Linked DNA regions of Homo sapiens. The protein of the gene in region 1 purifies or fractionates together with the protein of each later gene. This does not show direct contact. Each region holds a gene or a part of one and is shown on either strand. Other genes may lie near its edges.

Evidence for each region.
Region 2: the proteins of SUMF1 (region 1) and TXNL4B fractionate together in Homo sapiens (co-fractionation; one large-scale study listed by BioGRID). This does not show direct contact.

Annotation. Positions count from the first base shown.
Region 1 is NC_000003.12:4,360,322-4,363,462, reverse strand, and holds the end of SUMF1 (formylglycine-generating enzyme isoform 1 precursor), read left to right. Parts: intron 1-1,208; coding exon 1,209-1,319; 3' UTR 1,320-2,317; downstream 2,318-3,141.
Region 2 is NC_000016.10:72,084,305-72,087,765, reverse strand, and holds the end of TXNL4B (thioredoxin-like protein 4B), read left to right. Parts: intron 1-963; coding exon 964-1,129; 3' UTR 1,130-2,590; coding exon of another isoform or gene 2,591-2,660; 3' UTR 2,661-2,909; downstream 2,910-3,461. UniProt on the Homo sapiens protein: Essential role in pre-mRNA splicing. Required in cell cycle progression for S/G(2) transition.

The DNA.
Region 1 (3,141 bases):
CTAGGAATCCACCTTACAAGGGACGTGAAGGACCTCTTCAAGGAGAACTACAAACCACTGCTCAATGAAATAAAAGAGGATACAAAGAAATGGAAGAGCAATGTATTTTTAAAAAGCAATGTTGTCCCACAGCCTTTCCTATGTTTGATGTTCCTAGACTTGTTGTTTAATTTTTTGCCGATCTACTGGCATTAAATGATATCATAAATATGATTTAGATAATAAATAATATCATAAATATTATTTAGGTATTAAATGGTGTCTTAGTGTTGTTCTTAGTATTTTTTCAGTGGCCATCTATCACTTATTACTTGGTTTAATTTCAAAAATTAATATATATTCTTATTGTATTGGAATACTGAATAGGTTTCATATAGGAAACATGAAACTCAGATTGCTTGAGGGATAACTACTGTGCACATTGTGGTGCATTCGGAATCTTCCAGTCTTTTCTTCTTGGCACATGTAGTTATCTACACTGTGGTCATACCACATATACACCTTTATATTCTGCCTTTTTCATTTTAACTGTTTTTTTTTCTTTTTTTGGACACAAGATCTTGCTCTGTCACCCAGGCTTTAGTACAGTGGCTCAGTGATGGTGTACTGCAGCCTCAAACACCCAGGCTCAAGAGATCTTCCCACTTCAACCTCTAGAGTAGCTGTGACTACAAGTGCACACCACCATGCTCAGCTAATTTTTTGTAGAGATGGGATCTTGCTGTGTTGCCCAGGCTGGCCTCGAGCTCCTGGCCTCAAACAGTTCTCCCATTTCAGCCTCCCAAAATGTTGGGATTACAGGTGTGAGCCAGTGCGCCTGGCCTCATTTAACATTTTATCATGAAAACTTCCTGTGTCATTAAATACTATGTAAAGACATGACTTTCAATGGCTGCTTACTTTTCTATTATATGGATGTGCCTAAACTTAGGCAATCATTGGTTGTTACATTTTTCTTTTTTGCTGTTATATCTAATGCTGAACATCTTTGTACTATATCCGTGTTACATTTATAAGGTGAAGGACGTTGGAAAATATGTGGTTAGTTCTTGAATGTGCTGCCCTTTTTAAAGCATACATGTTAAGTATCCATACAGGCAGGGTTGTGGGGAAGCACTGTCTACAGCCGGTGCAATATGCATCTGATGGGTTAGAGCCTTCAGCTGAGAGTCCCAGTAGCACTTACCTTGCTCTTTCTCTCTACACAGTCTTATTGTTACAGGTATCGCTGTGCTGCTCGGAGCCAGAACACACCTGATAGCTCTGCTTCGAATCTGGGATTCCGCTGTGCAGCCGACCGCCTGCCCACTATGGACTGACAACCAAGGAAAGTCTTCCCCAGTCCAAGGAGCAGTCGTGTCTGACCTACATTGGGCTTTTCTCAGAACTTTGAACGATCCCATGCAAAGAATTCCCACCCTGAGGTGGGTTACATACCTGCCCAATGGCCAAAGGAACCGCCTTGTGAGACCAAATTGCTGACCTGGGTCAGTGCATGTGCTTTATGGTGTGGTGCATCTTTGGAGATCATCACCATATTTTACTTTTGAGAGTCTTTAAAGAGGAAGGGGAGTGGAGGGAACCCTGAGCTAGGCTTCAGGAGGCCCGCGTCCTACGCAGGCTCTGCCACAGGGGTTAGACCCCAGGTCCGACGCTTGACCTTCCTGGGCCTCAAGTGCCCTCCCCTATCAAATGAAGGGATGGACAGCATGACCTCTGGGTGTCTCTCCAACTCACCAGTTCTAAAAAGGGTATCAGATTCTATTGTGACTTCATAGTGAGAATTTATTATAGATTATTTTTTAGCTATTTTTTCCATGTGTGAACCTTGAGTGATACTAATCATGTAAAGTAAGAGTTCTCTTATGTATTATTTTCGGAAGAGGGGTGTGGTGACTCCTTTATATTCGTACTGCACTTTGTTTTTCCAAGGAAATCAGTGTCTTTTACGTTGTTATGATGAATCCCACATGGGGCCGGTGATGGTATGCTGAAGTTCAGCCGTTGAACACATAGGAATGTCTGTGGGGTGACTCTACTGTGCTTTATCTTTTAACATTAAGTGCCTTTGGTTCAGAGGGGCAGTCATAAGCTCTGTTTCCCCCTCTCCCCAAAGCCTTCAGCGAACGTGAAATGTGCGCTAAACGGGGAAACCTGTTTAATTCTAGATATAGGGAAAAAGGAACGAGGACCTTGAATGAGCTATATTCAGGGTATCCGGTATTTTGTAATAGGGAATAGGAAACCTTGTTGGCTGTGGAATATCCGATGCTTTGAATCATGCACTGTGTTGAATAAACGTATCTGCTAAATCAGGCTTCACCGTCATCAGCTTCTTTTCTCTTTCTCTTCTTTATGTTTTCTTTTAAAGAGAGGACTTTGTGATATGCGTGTTTTATTTGCTAGAAAACGTTCATGTTTGTTAGCTAATGGATAACTTTGATATGTGGGTAATTTGTGGGAATTTTTGTTCCAAAAAGCAAGGCTATTCCACCAGTAACCCTATCATGACCTTGCTGCTTGTTGCCACAGTAGATAATGCCAAGTCAAAGGCACTGCCTCACTTGTGGTCTTGTAAAACCCAGCATTTGCTTCCCATGCCGGGAAAGCACCTTGTTTTAGAACAATAGCTTTCAACCTAAGGTCCCTGTTATCAAGTTCCCATCCTGATTCCTCAGTCCTGAGAACCCCTAAGCCATTTCTTGCATGCCATTTGAAAGAAATGTTTAAATCAAATAATATTCAAAAGTGTCTAACCAACACTTGAATGCTACTTTTGTGCTTAGCCTCTTAACATGTTAAAACAATTCCCTTGAAAAGCAGTCATGTAGGCCAGGCCCAGTGGCTCACACCTGTAACCCCAGCACTTTGGGAGGCCAAGGTGGGTAGATCACTCAAGGTCAGGAGTTCGAGATTAGCTTGGCCAACATGCCAAAACCCTATTTCTACTAAAAATACAAAAAATAAAATTTAGCCAGGAGTGGTGACACTTGCCTGTAGTCCCAGCTACTCAGGACTGAGCCAGGAGAATTGCTTGAACCTGGAAGGCGGAGGTTGCAGTGAGCCGAGATCGCGCCATTGCATTCCAGCCTGGATAAGAGAACAAGACTTTGTCTCAGGAAAAAAAGAAAAAAAAAAAAA
Region 2 (3,461 bases), on another chromosome or scaffold:
TTGAGCCCAGGAGGTGGAGGTTGCAGTGAGCAGAGAACGCACCACTACACTCCAGTCTGGTGACAGAGCAAGGCTCCATCGCAAAACAACAACAACAACAACAAAAAAAAAACACAAAAGTATTTTAAAGCTGTTTATTCTACTGGAACACATTTGATGTAAGTATTAATTTGGTACAACCTTTTATGGGGGCCAGTTCAACATTATGTATCAAATAGTTTAAAGTTTTTAAACTTTTTAACCCAGTAATTACACTTCCAGGACTTTAATATGATGTTGCAGATGCACATTTAACAAATGAAAGAAATATATGTCAGCTAGAAAAAAGCATATTACTGAATAATTTGTATGACATAATTCCCAATGTTGGGAAAAAAGAAGTTTGTATCTGCACATACACACACACACACACACACACACACACACACACACACACACAAGATTGGAAGGATAGACACTGAAAAGTGACCTCTGGCCTCATCCGTGATTTTATTTATTTCTTTAAAATTTTTACAGTAACATACCTGGTGTTTGAGATACTTTTCTAAAAAATCAATTTTTTAATACCTACCACTCAAAAGGCCATGAATATTGAATGGGCTTTGCACAATGCCCAGGCAAAAGCAACAACAGCAAACGAAGAAACAATGTGCACTCCAACACTTGGTGAAATCTGCTTGATGATTTGAGAAGTGATAAAAATAGATTTTGTGATTACAATAGCTTTTGAAGCTAAAGCTTTGCACATGACAGAGCTTTCATGCTAGTGGCCCACAGCACTGGGTTGAGTCATTTACTAAATGGAAAAAAATGATTGAAAAATTAATGTTGGGCTTTATTTCTGAAGTCTCATTGACAAGAAGAAAATAACAAAGCTGTTTTTCATTTTGTTTATCCTGAAAGTCTTCAACAAGTGATTACTCAAAGTTCTTAGAGCAGTTGTTTCTCTTCTATGCTGTCTAGATCTCCAGATCACACTAAGTTTGTGGGAAGCTTCAAAACCAAACAAGACTTCATAGATTTGATTGAAGTAATCTATCGAGGAGCAATGAGGGGGAAGCTTATTGTCCAAAGTCCTATTGATCCCAAGAATATTCCCAAATATGACCTTCTCTATCAAGACATTTAGTACATTAATTGCTGTCAAAGATGAAGAAGAAGGCACATCTTGACACAGTACCTGAATCCAGCTGTGCTGTGTTTCTGGAGTCCTTTGGAAACATGTGTCCCAGAGGAGAAGAGGTTTGACTTGCGTGTAGAAAACCCGGCCCCTGAGGAAAAGACCCCACTGGTTCTCTGATGACCTGGGATGCCTAACTGTCTACTCCCTGCAAGCCTCAGAGCAGCCAAGTCATTGGTGTTCATTTTCCCCACAGTGATTTTTGTAACTTCTCTTTCTAATGTTTTTCTTTATCCCTTTAATACAGAACCCTCCCAAACATTGGCTAGTACAACTTGATTTCATCATGTTCATTTGATACACAAGTGAACTGGAAAGTCACTTCCCATAGAAGCAAAAGTACTTATTTTCTACCCTAGCTGGGTGCATGTGTGTGCACACACACACACACACACACCCCCACACCCCTTTGCCGGTTCCTCGACTCATACATCCCTCGTGCTTTCCCATCTCCAGTCTGTATTACTGTAGGTTCTCTTCAAATAATTAATTGAGCAGACAAGTTTGTTTTATTTTGGAGCCTTTTTGGCTCTGGCTTTTAAACATTGTCCTGGTTGGCTCATTTAATTTTTTTTTTTTTTTTTGAGACCGAGTCACTCTTGTCACCCAGGCTGGAGTGCAGTGGCGCGATCTCGGCTCACTGCAAGCTCCACCTCCTGGGTTCATGCCATTTTCCTGCTTCAGCCTCCTGAGTAGCTGGGACTACAGGCGCCCGCCACCATGCCCAGCTAATTTTTTGTATTTTTATAGAGGCGCAGTTTCACCGTGTTAGCCAAGATGGTCTCGATCTCCTGACCTCGTGATCTGCCCTCCTCAGCCTCCCAGGTGCTGGGATTATAGGCGTGAGCCACCGCGCGCACCCCATTTAATTATTTTTTATGTTATAAAATTTAATATGGAAAGTGAGAATTTGAACCTTCACCATCCACCACTCTATTCAGGTAAAACAATGAATGAGCCACCTTAGCAGGAGCAGATTTTTCCCAGAAGCTGCTGCCTCTTCCTGAGGCAGAAAATTGGATTACTAAGGCTCAAAACTAAAAGAGATGTCAGCATTGTTGGATAGAAATGTCACCTATATGGGATTTGCCTGTTTTAATAACTTTGTAAGGAATTCTTGCTCTTCTAGGGGTGCCTGGCGCAACCGTGGGCAAGTTACTGCTCCTCTTTAAACCTCGTGGTGGTTATTGAAACAGATTTATTAGAAGGAGAGGGTAGGTGCAGAGCTGGAGAGCCATGGGTGAGGCAGCTTGTGACCTGCCTAGCAGCCGCTGACCACCTCTCCAACAGAAGCCTAGTCCTGTTCAGAGCAGCACTGTCACTGCAAGTCCAGCCCCCTTTGCCAGGGGCTCCATTCCACCCCTTTCCTGCAGGGAGGGGTGCCATGAGTCTTGCTTTTGGCTCATACAGGAGAGAGGGAAGGCTGCCAGGCACTGCTTGTATCCCTGCTGATAAGAGGAGGGAGTCACTCCAGGAATAAGACAAAAGGAGAGGAGGAGGCCATCACCTCTGGCCTCTTCCATCGTACACTTCCTGTCTCTGGTTTAATCATGATGCATGGAGCTACAACAGCCATCTTAGGTCCCCGAGGTGCCCAGCATCACGTAAAACATCGATATGCTAAGAAGAACAAAAAGAGCCCAATCTCTGATGTTATTGAGCTCCTGCATGAACTCTGGACCTGCCTGCCTCAGACTTCTGTGAAAGAATAAAATTTCTTTTTGCCTAAGTCACTGTTAGTTGGGTTTTCTGTTCTTCAGCCCAGATCACACAGTATTTGCGGTATGGTAAGCACTCAGCGCACCAGCCAAAACTCAGAACCTGCGTGTGCAAAATTATCATGTCTTCTTCCTCCTGTTAGAAATAAGTTCTCTTATTTCTGAGTGCCGCAGAGGAAGAGGAGCACTCAGAAGAAAAGTTTCTCAGCAAGGCAAAGTTTACTTCTGCAGAAGGGTGCTGCCCGCGCCTATAGCAGTCGCAAAAGCACACCTAACAAAGGAGAACAGGTTTCTAACCCTAACGCAGTTCCTGCTTCTTTGTCTTTCCCCCATTGGCTGGGGTTGGACCGCACAGTCTAGGCTGACTCCAATTGGCTATGCGCTTGAATCTTTCTCAAATAAGGCAGAGGGTAAAGGTTACAGGTTAAGGTTTGGAGCAAGGCGGTTTACAGCCTATGACAAGAAAGTTGGATCTTTGAAGAGGAACCTTTCTTTTATTCTGACAATTTCCCCCTTTTTGTTGTTATAATTCTTCCTCTTCAAATTATTTTAGTAAGATTTGG